Linked DNA regions of Homo sapiens. The protein of the gene in region 2 purifies or fractionates together with the protein of the main gene of each other region. This does not show direct contact. Each region holds a gene or a part of one and is shown on either strand. Other genes may lie near its edges. The genes, in order: INF2 and GAK.

What was found.
Region 1: the proteins of GAK (region 2) and INF2 purify together in Homo sapiens (affinity purification with mass spectrometry; 2 studies listed by BioGRID and IntAct, with this or other methods). This does not show direct contact.

What each region holds. Positions count from the first base shown.
Region 1 is NC_000014.9:104,684,008-104,693,192, reverse strand, and holds the start of INF2 (inverted formin-2), read right to left. Parts: upstream 3,576-9,185; 5' UTR 3,454-3,575; intron 1-3,453.
Region 2 is NC_000004.12:921,566-929,761, forward strand, and holds part of GAK (cyclin-G-associated kinase), read right to left. Parts: intron 1-8,196. UniProt on the Homo sapiens protein: Associates with cyclin G and CDK5. Seems to act as an auxilin homolog that is involved in the uncoating of clathrin-coated vesicles by Hsc70 in non-neuronal cells. Expression oscillates slightly during the cell cycle, peaking at G1.

The DNA.
Region 1 (9,185 bases), on a different chromosome or scaffold from region 2:
TGTCACAGCACGGGAGCACAGGGTCCCTGCCCAGGGCACCAGGGCCAGGGGCCTTGGCAGCATCTTCCCATGTCCCTCTGACCCTGCAAAGGCCTTGATCGGCGGCCAGGAGCCTGGCCAGGCCTCCAGTGGTGCCCATCTGCTCCTTCTGGGTCTCCATGCCATTTCCAACAGACAGAGGTTGGGGCTGAGGGAGATGGAGGGTGCCCCAGCCACGGCCAGTCACCCTTCTGGGGTGAGAACAGGAGTGAACTGAGGGCACAGAGGCTCGGGGCAGCCCAGGCTGGCCCTTCTCTCAGGACTCTCCTGGTACCTCTCTCTCCCTCCCTGCTGCCTCTGGGAAAAGCTGCAGGCGAAAGAGGAAAGCAGCCTTGGCCCTTGCCCTTGGCCATTGGCGTGGCAAGGTCCTCAGGGCCTTCACGCTAGTCATCCCATCTGGGCTGTGACCACACTGGTCATTCCACCCAGGCTGTGACCCAGGCCGACTGGCTGGGAGGGCTCCGGGGTCCAGGCTGGCCCTTGGGCAGTTGTCTGTCTGCATGGGCTGCTCTGGAGTGACACAGGTGGTTGCCTGGAGGGCGGGCCTATTCCTGCCCCACCAACCCCCGAGTTTGGAGGCCCGGTAATGGCTACTTGACCAGGACAGGCCTGTCCTATTCCCAGAGTGGCAGTGCCAGCACCCTGAGCCTACCCCAGTGGTAGCAACAAGGGCTGGGGGGCCTCGGCCTCCAGCTACTCTGTGGGGCCAGCCCATTTGCACCCTGACCCCCAGTAAGTGCCCTGCACCTGCCTGGCACCGTGCTGAGCGGGGCTGGGCTCCAGGCTCTGGGCACAAGGGCAGATGCACACAGTAGGGGCTTTATCAGCACCTCCTGGCAGAATGGATGGCACTGAGTGTAAAATGGCACCGACTGTCCCGCGCCTCACCTGTGAAATGAACGCTCCTGCAGGACCCACGTCGCACTGGGAGGGATGAGGGTGGGAGACCGTGCGGAGGGACCCCGCAGGCTGGCTCATTCCTTTCCTCCTCACCCACTCACCCAGCACACAGACCCTGCCCAGGCTGGCGTGAATGGTGAGTGGACAGACCCGGCCTGAGGCTGGCCCTCGGGGACTGACATGAGCCCTCAGAGGGGCGACCCTAAGCAACCCCTGTGGTTCCTTATTTAATTACAGCTTAGAAAGGGCTGTGAGAGAGGACGGCCCCTCAGGAGAGGACAGGCACCACCGGTCTGCCCTGCTCTCCTGGCCTGGTGGTTGCCAGGGTATACCGGCACTGGGCTGGGGGGCAGCTGTGTGAGCAGACCTCACCCCAGCTCAGGACCCAGGCTGTCTGGGTGCTCAGAGGCAGACCAGGCAGGACTCTCCCTCCTAGGGTGAGGCTGGCAGGAGTGGAAGCCTCTCTAACAGGGGGCCAGGTGGTTGGACCCTGCTCACCCCTCCAGCGACGGGGAGCCCGTGCCCCTGCCCTCTCTCCTTCCCACCGTTGGTAGAACTTAGTCTTTGACTTTAGGTGTCCACTAGGCCTGGGTCTGCTGTGGCCCCTGGGGACCACCCTCCAGAGACTGGCTCCTATGTGGCCTCCACCTCCCGGCCTTCCCGTCCACCATCCTGAAAACAGAGGTGGGTGTGCCTTCTCCAATGTAATGTGTCCACTGGGCCATGAACCACACACCTATCAGACACCTGCTGTTTGCAAGATGGAGGTAGGGGAGGGGCTGGCAGCAGGGAGTCAGGTCTCATTCCTGACTACAGGGAAATTTGACCTCCAGGCACCAGCAAAAAGCCAGGGGCTTGAGCTTACTTCACTGTCCCCGTCCAGAGCTGGGCCAGCTGCGTCCTGCCCCACACCCACAGGCAGCACCGCATCACTTTCCAGTCACCACCCACCCCTCCCGCAGCCTGCATGAACCGCATAACTTTTCCAACCCAGGAAGTAACTGCACTTTGATGGAAGGCGCAGAGTCTATTTCAGGTAGGAGCTTCCACGTCCCCACATGTGCGGTGTGTGTCATTCGCTTGACAGCCGTCAGCTCCTCCACAAAGTGGGCGCTCACCTGAAGGTTAACTCAGGAGCCCTGGCTGTGGAGGCTACAGTCGCACCTGGCCACTTGGTCCGTCCCCACTAGCGACATCCCCTTTGCCGGGCTGCAGGGCCCATGACAGTCCAGGGATGGGAGGGCAGGGCCTGGGCAGGGCCCACTGCACCAACCTGGCTTTTAGAACAGAAAATTGCTGCTGCCCTGGTAGGGGTGGGAGCAGTGTGAGGTCTCAGACCCCAGGCCTGGAACCCAATGCTACTATTTGCTGCACTGGGGGCTGAGCACCGACACCCCAAAAGCCCCTGGCTGGGTGGCACCCTCGGGGTCTGAGGCACTGCTCTGGGACCCCACCTTCCCAGTGCAGGGCGGCAGGGAGCAGGTCCCAGCCTGAGCTGCTGTCCCACCCTTCAGAGTGCAGATGTGGAAACTGAGGCCGGAAGAGGGCGAGTATCCTGCTCCATTCCAGTGCCAGACGGAGGGGCAGGGCTGGCAGTAAGGGAATTTCCTACGTCCAGCGCCTTCTGGGTGTGCCTGACCTCTGGCCCGGTTCCTGGGTTCCTGGTTCCCTGCCTGGGCAGGGTCTCTGCCTCTCTGCCTCCTGGTGTGTCCAGCTGGAGTGGGCAGTAATGCTGTGGTCACAGCTGAGCTGCGGGAGCCCTGGGTGGGGAGCTTGAGCCCCAGAAGGCCCAGACAGACAGACCACCCCCCACGCCTGTGCTCCCCAGGGGGCATTGGGGACGGTCAGGGACACAGCTGGTCACCCCGCCTTCCCCTCCTTAGTCATGGTCACTCCTGGGGCGACTCCCCAGTTAGAGGGTTGACGGGTGGGTCTGGGGGCGTACAGGGATTGGATCCTACCCCACCCAAAAGGAACAGAGAGCTGTGATGGAGGCTGATTCCCCTAAGCCTGCCAGCGGTTGCGGGGTGGGAAGGGCTCCCTGTGCGCCCACCTGCGCGTGGGCAGCTGGAAGCCAAGCAGTCAGGGTGGGGCCGCAGGCCGGCGCGCACCTCGGGGTGCCACCCGGGCGGCGGACCCGAAGTTGAAGTTTATTTTCCCAACTGTGGCTGATTCATGGTCAGGATGTGGCAGCCGCGAGGCGCGGAAATCCCGCCTGCCCTGGGAGTAGGCCCGGCCGACCCTGGGCCCACCACTCTGCGGCCAGTGCGCGCTCGGGCGGTGCCTCGGCGCGGAGGACCATAGTCCCGAGCGGGGCGCGCGGAGCCGGGGGGGCCAGGGGCGCCCTGGGGTCCCCGCCCGGGAACTGTACCCTGCGCCGCCGGACCGCCCGCCGCCACCTGGGCACACACGCCGCAGCCCGGAACCTCGCTCCTGGACCCAAGCACGCCCCTGCCTCCTCCCGGACTCAGTTTCCCCTGAAGCTCCAAGCGGACCCCGAGGCCAAGGACTTACCCGGTGAGGCAACGGCCAGAGGGCGGTGGTGCGGCCGGCGCTCCGTCCGGGGCCGGGTCAGGGGCTGCGGGCAGCCGGCGCCCACTGCCGCGCTCCGCAAGGCTCGGACGGTGGCTCCTGGCGGGCGCGGGGCGGGCGGGGCGGGCGGGAGGAAGAGGAGGTGCCGCCCCGCCCGTCAGCGGCCACGTGGGGAGCGAGCGCGGGCCGGGGGCGGGGCCTGGGGGGGGAGGTGGGTGGCTGGGGGTGGCCCCGCCCACTGTGGCCGGTCCCTGAGGGCGCTTTAAGGGGTCTCCCCACTCCCGTGAATAACCTGGCCGCCCCCTCGCGGTCCCTGCTGGCCTGGCTCCTGGTGGGCGGAGATGGGGGTGGGACGCGCAGATCGGGGCCGTCTCCCGCCTCAGCCCCCACTGTCCGCCCCGTCCCTGCCCTCCACCGCCTCCCGTCCACCTACACCCCTATCCTCCGGTGGGACTGGCCTCCCAGGCGCCGCTCACCTCTCTCTGCCCCGGCCCGGGACTCCCGTTCCAGCCAGCCGGATCCGGAGTCCCCGCGTTCGGGGATCCCTCAGCAGAGATGGCTCTTCCCAGGCTTTGGGGAGAGAGAGCCTACCCATCAACCAGGCCACCCATGTGGCCTCCTCTCCGCAGCCCTGCCTGACCCCCTTCCACCCTTGATGGGGTCTCGGCGGTCTTGGGCAGCCGCACTTCGCCGGTTGGTGGAGACAGCTGCATGAGGGCCGCGGAGGTGTCGCAATGGGGTGGGTTTTCTCTGCCACCCCTCTGCTGTCCGGCCTCATCTGTCTCCTAGATTGAGGGGGGCACCCATCCCCCCACCGCCGACATTGACCAGCATGGGGCGTGCCCATAGTCGGCTCTGAAAGCCAGCCTGGTTGGATGAGAGCCAGACCCCAGCTCTGGAAGTCCCTTCTGACGTCTGACCCTCAGTCAGAGCTGCAGGAAGCAGCGCACCAGGCCTGGGGTTTGGGGGCCACTGGCAGCTAGAGGGAGGGCAGAGGAAGGCAGGCCTGGGGGAGCCCCCGTGTGACATGTGACAGAGCAGACACAACCCCTGCCCTGAGAACCGGCGCCAGCACTCCCTGTGCGGCCTCAGGCTCGGATATGACTCTGTGGAGCCTCAGTTTCCCCATCTGTAAAATAGAATAAGTACCCGTAAGGGCTGTATGAGGGTCAAGAACATGCGGATAAAGTGTCTCCACTCGGAGTCCTGACATCTCTCTCCGGAGGGCCTGCTGTGTGGGCCGTGGCGGCCAGGGCTCAGGGTGAGGGCGAGGGGAGAGAAAAGGGCTCCTGAATGGCTTCCCAGCCCCGATGCAGCTTCTGCTTTGAGGCCAGCTGCGTGTCCTTTGGCTTTGGTGTGCCTCCGCTCCGGTGGGGATAAGCGCCGAATTGCAGGCTGCGTCTGTCTGCTCCCTGTGCGGACCTTGCCCTGCCCAGCAGCCCCAGCCCCGGAAGTTTGCTGGCTCAGCCCCAGTGCAGGAGCAGCTGCAGGCCACAGCCCCGGGTGTGCCTGAGGAGCCAGCCAAGGCAGGCGCTCACTGGACACCCTCCAACCTGGGCGGCCGCTGCTCCTAGACAGGCACTCTGCAATTCTTGGAATGCACCTGGAAGGCCGGCCTCCGGCCCTCCACACCGGGCTCCAGGGCCCCTTCCAGAGCAGAAGGCCTTCCTGCCCTCCCTCAAGCTGGGCTTTGGGTCTCCTGGTGCACTCCTGGACCCGAACATTGGTGCCTGCCCTGGTACCACCCCACCCTGGAGGGCACGGGCGGGGCTGACTCATCTGCGTTGGGAGCTGATGCCTGGCAGCGGTGCTGGGCAGTGGGTGTGTTTGTTGATCCAGTGAATGGAGGAATGTGAGGAGGTTGGTGGGGAGTGAGCTTTGACCTGCAGCCCCCTCCCCTGTCCACCTGCCTGGGGGAAAGTCAGAGTCCTGAGCCTTACTCAGAGGCTGGAGTAGGAGGTCAGGTGTGGGCGAGGGGTCCACCTTTCCTGCCCTGATGGGGGAGGGAGGCCCAGCGCCCCCAGGGCCGCTCCTGCCTGGGGCTGTCTCCCTTGCACCCAGTCGTGCTTCCGAGCTGCACACCTGGTCCAGAGAGGCCAGCACAGGCCGGAGCAGGGTGAAGAAGGTGGGGTGAATGTGATTTAGTTGGAGAGAGGTTGGAGAAGTCCCTGGGGTCGGCAGGGAGTGCAGAGGAGGGCTTTGGGCCCTGATTAAGAGTGTGTGTCTGTGTGTGTGTGTGTGTATGTGTGTGTGTGTGTGTGGAGTGGAGGCCGAGGTCAGAGGTCTGGGAGGGTGGAAATGTGGACACTGAAAGGGGGTTTTCCGTCAGGCTTGAACCCACCATGCCCGGGGCAGCAGGGTTCAACCCGGCTTGAGCACTGATTTTCTGAGACATACAGAGGCCCCCTCCTCTTCTCCTTCAGTGGCTCACCCTCAACCCTCTGTACCTCCAGCGCTCCCAGACTCCATCCTGGCCCTATTCTGAGCTTGCTTCCTGGCCCTGGGGTTGAAGAGAGGACCGATTTGGCCTCAGAAACACACCACCTGCAGCCACTGCCTGCGGCTTCCGGAGCTGCTTCCTGGAAGCCATGGCCTGCCTGGAGCCTCCCCTCCTGGGTGTCGGTCCTTCCTCGGAGCCGGGTACACAAGTGCCGGCCCCCAGCTGCAGGTACCCAGATGCCTGAGAACAGGGTCGTGCAGGTACAGGCTGGTACTGTGACACACCCAGGCGGAGCCACATGTTCCTGGCCACTGGCACAGAGTGCAAGAGTGGCCCTGCCACTGTAGGCCTGTGGAGAGCTTGCCTCTGCCTCTTGCTGGAAGATTGGGATGAGGGGAGAGCAGGCCTTGGCACCGACAGCTTGAGTTCTGCTAGAAACAGGCAGGCAGGTGTGGGCGTTCTGAGAGAAATCCTCCCAGCCTGATGTTGGCGCCGCCGTGCAGTCAGGACAGCCCTGCATGCAGCAGGCGGCCACTTGCAGGCCCAGAAGGGCTTCCTGGGGTCCACCTGAGCAGCAGCCTGGCCATGGGTTCATTTCCTTCATCAGTTCAGCACCCAGAATGCTTTTTATCTTTTTTCCCCTTTTGAGATTTTATTTTGCATCCTACTGTGGTGCCCTGAGATGATCTCTGACATTGTTACAGAATGAAGTAAGTGAAAACATGCCTGCTCACCCATGTCCACCCACCTTGCCCACCTATGTACCCATTCACCCATTCATCCATCCATTCCCACACACACCCACACTTCATCCGTCTGTTCACCCACCTACCCACCCATTCACCCACCCACCCTCATCCATCCATCTGCCTATCCATTCATCCATCCACCCACCCATCTGTCCATCCACTTATCCATACACCTACCCATCCACCTATTCACCCTTAATCCACTCATCCACCCATCCACCCACCTACCCACCCATTCATCCACCTACCCTTATCCATCCATCTGCCCATCCATTCATCTATCCACCCACCCACCTATCCACTCACACATCCATCCACCTACCCATCCACCCATCCACCTACCCACCTATCATCTACTCATCCATCCATCTGCCCATCCCTTCATCCATCTACCCATCCACCTACCCATCATCCACTCATCCACCCATCTAACCACCTACCCACCGACTGATCCACCCACCCTCATCCATCCATCTGCCCATCTATTTGTCCATCCACCCACCCACCTACCCACCCACCTATCCACCCACCTACCCATCCATCCATCCACCTACCCACCCATCATCCACTCATGCACCCATCCCCCCACTTACCCACCCATTTGCCACTCACCCACCCACCCTCATCCATTCATCTGCCCATTCATTCATCCATCCACCCACCCATCCATCCATCCACCCACCATCCACTTACCCATCGGCCTACCCACCCATCATCCACTCATCCACCCATCCACCCACCTACTCACCCATTCATCCACCCATGCACCCACCCTTATCCATCCATCTGCCCATCCATTCATCCATCCACCCACCCACCTATCCACCAACACATCCATCCACCTACTCATCCACCCATCCACCTACCCAGCCATCATCCACTCATCCACCCATCCCCCCACCTACCCACCCATTCATCCACCCATCCACCCACCCACCCACCCTTTCATCCACCCATCCACCCACTCACCCTTCCAGCTGTGGCACCTTGGGCAGCTGTTCTGCTCTATGCTTGCTGACAAGGACACGACCGCCCCCAGTCACCTCCAGCCAGGTCCTTCCTCCAACATCCCTGCCCCTCCCTTGGCTTTTTGCTCTGTAGCTGGCAGCTTTGCCTGCTGGGGCTTCAGCAGCCCCTTGTGGAGCCTCTCAGCATTTTGCAAGCTTCTCTTGCATTTCTCAGTTCAAACTCCAAGAGCACCTGAGTCAGCCTGTCTGTGTCTGGCTGCAGGAGGTAGACATTGGTCAGGGCTTATCCCTGGTCTGAGGAGGGAAGGCAAGAGCTGGGACCAGGCTGCTGCTCTTAGAAGGGACGGTGGGTGGGGCAGTCAGTCAGGGGCTTGTGTCAGGCAGGAAGCTCTGTCCTCTTCATTTGAATATTGCACACACATACAGTAGAATCTCATTATTTACAGATTCTGTACTTGCAAATTTGCCTACTCGCTAAAATGTATTTGTAAACCTAAAACCAGTACTTGCTTAAGAACAGTCTGCATCTCTTGAAAATGAGATAAAATAAGATCAATACTTGCTTTTGAGATGATGTGTCCTATGGAGAAAATACATGTGTTGGACAGGCTCTGTACAGGCATGAGTTGTAGTGCTCTTGGCCGGGAGTTTAGTGACATATATTAACAGAAACACATAAATAACTCTATTGTGTACTGATTGGTTGCTGAAAAGGCTGGAGCAGAGGCTCGTAGGAACCTGGCCCTCTATTTCCCTTAGGAGCAGAGGTTCGGCATTCACTCTGTCAAGTGTTTGCAGCCATATCATGGAACACAGGACTCGCTGTCACAGATCGAGCTGCTGCATGGCATGCGTGAGGTGCCCAGAGCTTGGGTCTACCACACCAAGAGTTTTTACATTCATAGAAACCCACGTAACTACCACCACCCATAGCAAACTCTGCAACACCTCCAGGGCCCAGAAAGTTCCATTGCATAGCCCCCTCCGTGGGCACCTGCCAAAGCTAACTGCTTTTCTCCTCTCTGCCACCATAGAGCCGTCATTCTAGGATTGCGTGTAAATGTCAACCTTTGTGTCTGGCTTCTTTCGCTCCACAGTCTCTGAGACTCATCCACGCGGTGGTGTGCATCGTTCACTCATGTTTCTTGATTTCTATGAAATATTTCGTTGCACAAACCTATCCGCTGAAAGCTGAGGTGCAGAGGCCGGGTGCTGGCAGAGCTGGTGGGCCTCCTTCGGGCACCTCACTGAGCAGGCTAAGCCAGTGCTGGCCCTCGGGAGACGCAGTCCACCTCCCTGCTGACCTCCAGTGAGCCCTCGAGCTGTCCCTCCCCAGCCTCCTTCTCGGTTGCCTCAGTTGTCTGGTGGGAGTCCAGATGGGATGCGTGCTGTTTCCCGTGGCGGCACGCAGGTTACTTGCATGATGGGGAGAGCCGCTCAGCTTTGAACTGTCTTATGTCGGGGGTCCGTGCCATCTTTTGCTTAAAGAAGGGGTTCTCCACCTAACGAGGTGAGAAGACACTGGGCCTTGCAACCCTGGTGTTGGGAATTTGAGGA
Region 2 (8,196 bases):
CAAATCTTCAAGATAAAGAGCTAAGAATCCTTAGCTGTGACAAGGCGTGATTCGTAAAAGGAAAAATAAATCAGACTTCACAATGAAAAACTTTGGATCTGCAACAGACCCCGCTTTGTTTGTTTTTTTTTTTTAATTAACTGGTCTGAGTTTGCGTCCAAAAAGATCCTGTTTAGGGGACGAAAGGACAAGCTGCAGACTAGGAACAGATACTTGAAAACCCCATGTCTACGAAGGACTTAAATCTACAATAAAGAACACTCAAAACTTGGTCAAAAAAACATAATTAGGAAGTGGGCAAAAGACATGAACAGACATTTCACCCCTGAAGATATGCAGATGGCAAAGAAGCACTCCCAAGCTATCGGGAAAATGCAAATCAAAACCACAAGGAGGTATCGCTACACATGTATCACAATGATCACAGTAAAAACCACGACGCCAAATGCTGGTGAGTACAAAGAGAAACTCGCTGTTAGGGACTCAACTGTGTGCCCCCAAAATGCATCTGCGGAAGCCCCAGATGACCCTATGCGGAGACGGGCCCTCAAGTAATGAAGGATAAATAAGTTCATACGAGTGGGGCCCTAATCCAATAGGACTGGTGTCCTTATAAGATGAAGACACACCAGAGATGTCAGCATCCCCTCAGCAAAAAGGCAGCATCGGCCGGGCGCGGTGGCTCAGGCCTGTGATCCCAGCACTTTCGGAGGCCGAGGCGGGCAGATCACTTGAGGTCGTGAGTTTGAGACCAACCTGGGAAACATGGTGAAACCCCGTCTCTACTAAAAATACAAAAATCAGCGGCGCATGGTGGTGGGCGCCTGTAGTCCCAGCTACTCAGGAAACTGAGGCAAGAGAACTGCTTGAACCCAGGAGGCAGAGGTTGCAGTGAGCTGAGATTGCGCCACTGCACTCCAGTCTGGGTGACAGAGCGAGACTCCATCTCAAAAAAAAAAAAAAAAAAAAGGCAGCATCTGCAAACCAGCAAAAGAGGCCTCTCCTGGAATCAGCACTGACAGCATCTTGCTCTTGGCCTTCAAGCCTCCAGAACTGCGAGAGTGAATTTCTACTGCTCCCCACTCAGTCTGGAGTATTTTGTTATGGCAGCCTAACCAGGCTGATACGCTCCTACATTGCTGGTGGGAATGTATGGCCACTCAAGAAAACAATCTGGCAGTTTTCTAACAAACTAAACACATAATTACCACACATGAACCAGCAACTGCACTCTTAAACATTTATCCCAGAAATGAAAACGTATATTCACACAAAAACCTATACGCAAGTGTCACAGCAGCTTTATCTGTAGTAGCCAAAACAGGAAACAGCCCAGATGTCCTTCCACGGGTGGCTGGCTGGGCAAGCCGTGCACACTCACGCAGAGGAGTCTCACCACGGGAAACAAGCTACTGACACACAATTACCTGAAGAATTCTGCACTTCCCCTTACACTGCATCCTTCGAATGACAAAATCACAGACAGAGCAAAGACTAGAGGTTTCCAGAGGGTAAGGAAATGGCGTGGCTGAGAGGTGGCATGAGGGCTCCCTACGGGGATGGAGACTTCCACAGCCTCACCTGCACCAGGGTTAGCATCCCGACCGTCACCACTGGGGAAACCAGGCAAGGGTCTAAAATAGAAAAGATCTCCATCTTTTCTCACAGCCGCGTGGGAACCTACAATGAACTCAAAATAATACAGTTTATTTAAAAATAATAGTAACGTATAAGACATTAAAGAATGGCATGTCGGGTACCTCCAAGACCCTGTTATATACATTTTACAGCACACACTCTGCCAATTAAGGAACAGGCACAGGCCAGGCACAGTGGCTGACACCTGCAATCCCAGCACTTTGGGAGGCCGAGGTGGGAGAATCACTTGAGCCCAGGAGTTCTGAGAACAGCCTACAGGCAACATAACAAGACTCCATCTCTACCAGAAATAAATTAAAAATTAGCCAGGCGTGGTGGTGCGTGCCTGTGGTCCCAGCTACCTGGGAGGCTGAGGTGGGAGGATCGCTTGAGTCCGGGAGTTCAAGACTGTGGTGAGCTGTGATCATGCCACTGCACTCCAGCCTGGGCAACAAAGCAAGACCTCATCTCAAGGGCAGGGAGTGGAGGGGTGGGGAGTGGAGGCACAGAGACATCAAATGCTCAAGCCAGGTCAAATCTCAAGGCCCAGGTTCCCTGAGGCAGCCTGGCCTGGGACAGCAGAGTGACCACAGCTAAGGCTTGCCTTCTCTTTCTCACATAAATTATATAAATATATAAACATAAGACCTGTATCCAGAGTAAGCAGAAACTCCCTGCCCAATAAAAAATGGACAAAAAGGCCAGGCGCCGTGGCTCATGCCTGTAATCCCAGCACTTTGGGAGGCCAAGGCCGGCGGGTGACCTGAGGTCAGGAGTTTGAGACCAGCCTGACCAACATAGTGACACCCCATTTCTACTAAAAAATACAAAATTAGCTGGGCATGGTGGTGCATGCCTTTAATCCCAGCTAGTTGGGAGGCTGAGGCAGGAGAATTGTTTGAACCTGGGAGGTGGAGCTTGCCGTGAGCCAAGATGGAGCCACTGCACTCCAGCCTGGGCAAGACTCCCTCTCAAAAAAAAAAAAAAAAAAAAATTGCTGAACATCATCATCAGGGAAATTCCAATGAAATCACAATGAGATCGACACCACTGCACACTCACAAGAATGGATGTAATCAAAATGAGAGACCACAAGAAATGCTGGTGAGGAAGTGGAGAGCCAGGAACTCTCCACTGCAGCTGGTGGAAATGTAAAATGGTGCAGCTACCGTGGAAGGAGGTTTGGTTGTTTCATGTGAAGTTCAACCTAAATCCAACCTGTAAATCAGCAATCCTACTCCTTGGTATTTTTTACCCAAGACAAAGAAAAACACACGTCCACAAAAAGACTTGAAAAAAAATGTTCTCGGCACCTTTATTCATAACAGCGGATACGGTTTGGATCTTTATTCATAACAGCGGACACGGTTTGGATCTTTATTCATAACAGCACATACGGTTTGGATCTGCGTCCCCATGCAAATCTCATGTTCACTTGTGACCCTCAATGTTGGAGGAGGGGCCTGGTGGGAGGTGACCGGATTATGGGGCGGAGTTCCCCATGGCGTGGCTGCTCTCAGGATAGTGAGATCTGACTGGGCCATGGGTGTGGAGTTCCTCCCGGGGCTGCTCTCAGGATAGTGAGTGCTCTCCTGTGAGATCTGATTGGGTCGTGGGGGTGGAGTTCCCCCGGGGGGCTGCTCTCAGGATAGTGAGTGCTCTCCTGTGAGATCTGATTGGGTTGTGGTGGTGGAGTTCCCCCAGGGGCTGCTCTCAGGATAGTGAGTGCTCTCCTGTGAGATCTGATTGGGTCATGGGGGTGGAGTTCTGCCCGGGGGCTGCTCTCAGGAGGAGGTTGCCAGGATCTGAGATCACACCCCTGTACTACAGCCTGGGCAACACAACAAGACTCTATCTCAAAAAAATAAGAATAAAAAAATAACAGGCACAGGATATGAATGTGCAATGCCAGAAGGGGAGGCTGAGCAGCAAATAAGCATTACCAAACTCGCTACTCAGAAAGGCACAAATCAAAGCTTGACACTTTTTAAACCCATCAAAATGTCCAAATAAAACAAACCCCCAGGGGACACTCTGAGGACTTGGGACACTAGAGTCTGGTGCCCCCGAGCAGCCTGCAGGCCCCATGAGCAGAGCTGGGCAACCTTCCCCCACACAGCCCACCAGCGTCCATGCAAAGGGCTGAGGACACCTCTCACCAGGATGCGTGTAGGATGCACGGAGCACGCTGGGGACGGGACAGAGTGCCGGGGGACAGTGAGGTCAGTACAGGACCACTACAGGCAGATCTGAGTATCTTTTTTAATCAACTCGGCCTCTTTTAAGAAACAGACACTTTTCTAACGTAAAATACCACATACCAACATTTTCAATACACACATAATTCACAACACTACAGAATGAATCTGTGTCCCCTCCAAAATTCCTGTGTGAAATCCTAATACCCAAGGTGATGGTGTTAGGAGGTGGGGCCTCCTTGGGGGTGACTAGGCCATGAAGGTGGAGCCCTCAGGACTGGGATTACTGCCCCAGAGAGCACTCCCTCACCCCTTCTGCCCTGTGAGGACACAGCGAGAAGGTGCTGGACCTCACCAGACACCAGATCTGCCGGCGCCTTGCGCCTGGACTTCCAGCCTGCAGAGCCGTGAGGAATAAACAAACGTCTGTGGTTTATAGGCCCCCAGTGTACGACGTTCTGTTACAGCAGCACAGACGGACTGGGACACGGGGATGCGCACCCACACAGACAACCATGAGCAATTCACCAGGAGTCCACGGAGTGGAGGAGGAGGAAAGGGGAGTGGCCCAGCCCAACTGTCACCTCCCCCAGTGGTGAGCCCACCCGGGGGTCGTCCCCAACAGTGACCTCCCCGAACGTCTAATTCACCCCAAGGGGGTCCTCCCCCGACAGTGACCTCCCCAAACGTCTAATTCACCCCAGGGGGTCCTCCCTGGACAGTGACCTCCCCGAACGTCTAATTCACCCCAGGGGGTCCTCCCTCGACAGTGACCTCCCCCAATGGTGAGCCCACCCATGGGGTCCTCCCCAAGAGTGACCTCCCTGTATGTTAACAGACAGAAACCACAGAAGTAACACAGGCTTGTTCCTGCCAAGGGTCAGCCGCAGCTGAGCATGAAGTGGTGTTGGCCTGTCACTCTCCGCCCCAACAGCCTCTACTACCTTATATGCTCAGACATCTCCTCCAGGGCACAATGCGCAGAGCAACGGGGGCCAGGACAGGGGCCCTAAGGACACCTCCCTGGGGCTCCCAGCCCCCACTCCACCACTCGACCTCTGGCAAGCAACTAATCTCTGCAAACGTCACTTTTCTCTTCTGCGAGATGGAAGTAATTATAGTACCCACTTTCCAGGGCTACTGTGAGGACCACACAATCCACATAAAGTACTACTGACCATGCTCGGCAAATACGAAGAGCCCCTAAGGGTTGCTGTGGTGGTTCTGACCATTTTTACTTCACGCTGGGAACTAGCCAAAGTGGACAAATGTTGATGATCAAGCTGTCAACTTGGAAGTGAAGGCGGTTGGTACCAGGAGAGCCGCCAGGGGGCAGCTACTCTGTGGCAGAATCTGGGCCTCACAGGCCTGATGACCTAGAACCAACTAACCAAGCCCCAGAGACCCTGCTTACCTGCGCTCCGCACTGCCCCGCACCCCTCCCAGCTCACCTGCGCTCCGCACTGCCCCGCAACCCCCCCCACCCCGCTCACCTGCGCTCCGCACTGCCCCGCACCCCTCCCGGCTCACCAGCGCTCCGCACTGCCCCGCACCCCTCCCCGCTCACCTGCGCTCCGCACTGCCCCGCACCCCTCCCGGCTCACCAGCGCTCCGCACTGCCCCGCACCCCTCCCCGCTCACCTGCGCTCCGCACTGCCCCGCACCCCTTCCCGCTCACCTGCAGTCCGCACTGCCCCGCACCCCTCCCCGCTCACCTGCAGTCCGCACTGCCCCACACCCCTCCCGGCTCACCTGCGCTCCGCACTGCCCCGCACCCCTCCCGGCTCACCTGCAGTCCGCACTGCCCCGCACCCCTCCCGGCTCACCTGCCCTCCGCACTGCCCCACACCCCTCCCGGCTCACCTGCGCTCCGCACTGCCCCGCACCCCTCCCCGCTCACCTGCAGTCCGCACTGCCCCGCACCCCTCCCGGCTCACCTGCAGTCCGCACTGCCCCGCACCCCTCCCCGCTCACCTGCAGTCCGCACTGCCCCGCACCCCTCCCGGCTCACCTGCAGTCCGCACTGCCCCGCACCCCTCCCCGCTCACCTGCAGTCCGCACTGCCCCGCACCCCTCCCGGCTCACCTGCAGTCCGCACCCCTCCCCGCTCACCTGCGGTCCGCACTGCCCCGCACCCCTCCCGGCTCACCTGCAGTCCGCACTGCCCCGCACCCCTCCCGGCTCACCTGCAGTCCGCACTGCCCCGCACCCCTCCCGGCTCACCTGCAGTCCGCACTGCCCCGCACCCCTCCCCGCTCACCTGTAGTCCGCACTGCCCCGCACCCCTCCCCGCTCACCTGCCCTCCGCACTGCCCCGCACCCCTCCCTGCTTACCTGCGCTCTGCACTGCCCCGCACCCCTCCCTGCTTACCTGCGCTCTGCACTGCCCCGCACCCCTCCCTGGGTGAGCGCAGGCCCCGCACCCCTCCCTGGGTGAGCGCAGCCACCGCACTTCAGGCTCTGGGTCCAGGAGAGGTACAAAGAAGCAAGGATGACAGAACCCTGGTGGCTAAGAGAACAGCACAGAGCTGCAGAGGCTGGTGCCCTCAGTCACATGGCCAAGAGAACAGCACGGAGCTTCAGAGGCTGGTGCCCTCAGTCACAAGTCCTATGTGGGAAGAGGGTCGGCTACAAGGCTGGCTCGCCACAGCAACCTAAGGGTCTACTTTTTTTTGAGATAGAGTCTCGCTCTGTCGTCCAGGCTGGAGTGCAGTGGTGCAATCTTAGCTCACTGCAGCCTCCACCTCCCAGGTTCAAGTGATTCTCCTGCCTCAGCCTCCTGAGCAGCTGGGATTACAGGCACGCGCCACCATGCCCAGCTAGTTTTTGTATTTTCAGTAGAGATGGGGTTTTGCCATGTTGGTCAGGCTGGTTTCGAACTCCTGACTTCGGGTGATCTGCCCACCTCGGCCTCCCAAAGTGCTGGGATTACAGGCGTGAGCCGTCGTGCCCGGCCCGGTCTACTTTTAAGATCAGTCTAAGGCTGGGCACATTATCTCATGCCTGTCGTCCCAGCACTCTGGGAGGCCTAGGCCAGGGGGATCACGTAGGCCCAGGAGTTCAAGGCTGCAGTGAGTCGTGATCGCTCCACTGCACTCAACATGGGCGACAGAGCCAGACTCTTTTCAATAAAAGAAAATGATCTCAAGTGTACCCTGCGGAGGACACATGGGGCCAGCATGCGGCCTCCCCTGCCACTGAGCCCACCTTGGAGACATGGGGCCTTCCTGCCACTGAGCCCACCTGGGAGGGTTTCTGAAACTTGCAACCAAGAGTCTTGCTTGTACCACATGATTCTGCAACTGTCAGTCAGTACCAAATATTCACAGTGCCCTCACCCAGTCCAGAACATTCTTTTTTCTTTTCTTTTTTTTTTGGTGAGACGGAGATTTACTCTTGTTGCCCAGGCTGGAGTGCAATGGCGTGATCTTGGCTCACCGCATCCTCCACCTCCCAGGTTCAAGCGATTCTCCTGCCTCAGCCTCCTGAGTAGCTGGGACTACAGGCATGTGTCACCACACCCGGCTAATTTTGTATTTTTAGTAGAGACGGGTTTCCCCGTGTTGCCCAGGCTGATCTCGAACTCCCGATCTCAGGTAATCCACCCGCCTCGGCCTCCCAAAGTGCTGGGATCACAGGCGTGAGCCACTGCGCCCGGCCCAGAACATTCTAAGTAAGTGAAGGGAGGAAGCCTCCAAAAGCCATGTCAAGGAGGAAGAAGGGTGGAGAGTCAGGACCACACACAAGTGGCCCTGGGGGTGGGAGTAGGCTGTGCCCTCCCCATTCCTTAGGCCAGAGCTTGACCCCCAAGGCTCCTGAGCGGGCCCAGCCACTCAGCTAACACTGCGCATGGCACACAAGGGCTGCGGGCTGGCTCAAATTACATACAACACCCAACCAAACGCACGAGGCGGGTTACGCTTAAACCATACGACGGCTGTGCGGCATCGTTTTCTTTTCTGCCTCAATTTATCTCACTAGCAGTAACCCCGAGTTCAAGTCAGCCACACAGGGAAGGTGGATTTCCCTGCAGTCAGGGCACCACAGGCTCCACTTCAGAAGCAACGGCACGCAGAACCCAAAACAAAGAACACACAGCATACACCTGCCCTGGGCATCTCTGACATGGTTGGTGCTCCTGATAATCTGCCTTTTAAAAAAGTGAAGACTAGCTAGGTGCAGCAGCACATGCCTGTAAGCCCAGCTACTCGGGAGGCCGAGGCAGGAAGATCCAGAGCCCAGTTCAAATCCATCCTGAGTAACAGCAAGACCTCGTCTCTTAAATTAAAAAAAAAAAAAGGAAGATGACAGAACAAATTTGAAGAAATTAGAAAGCTATCTGGTTCCACAGTTCTACCTA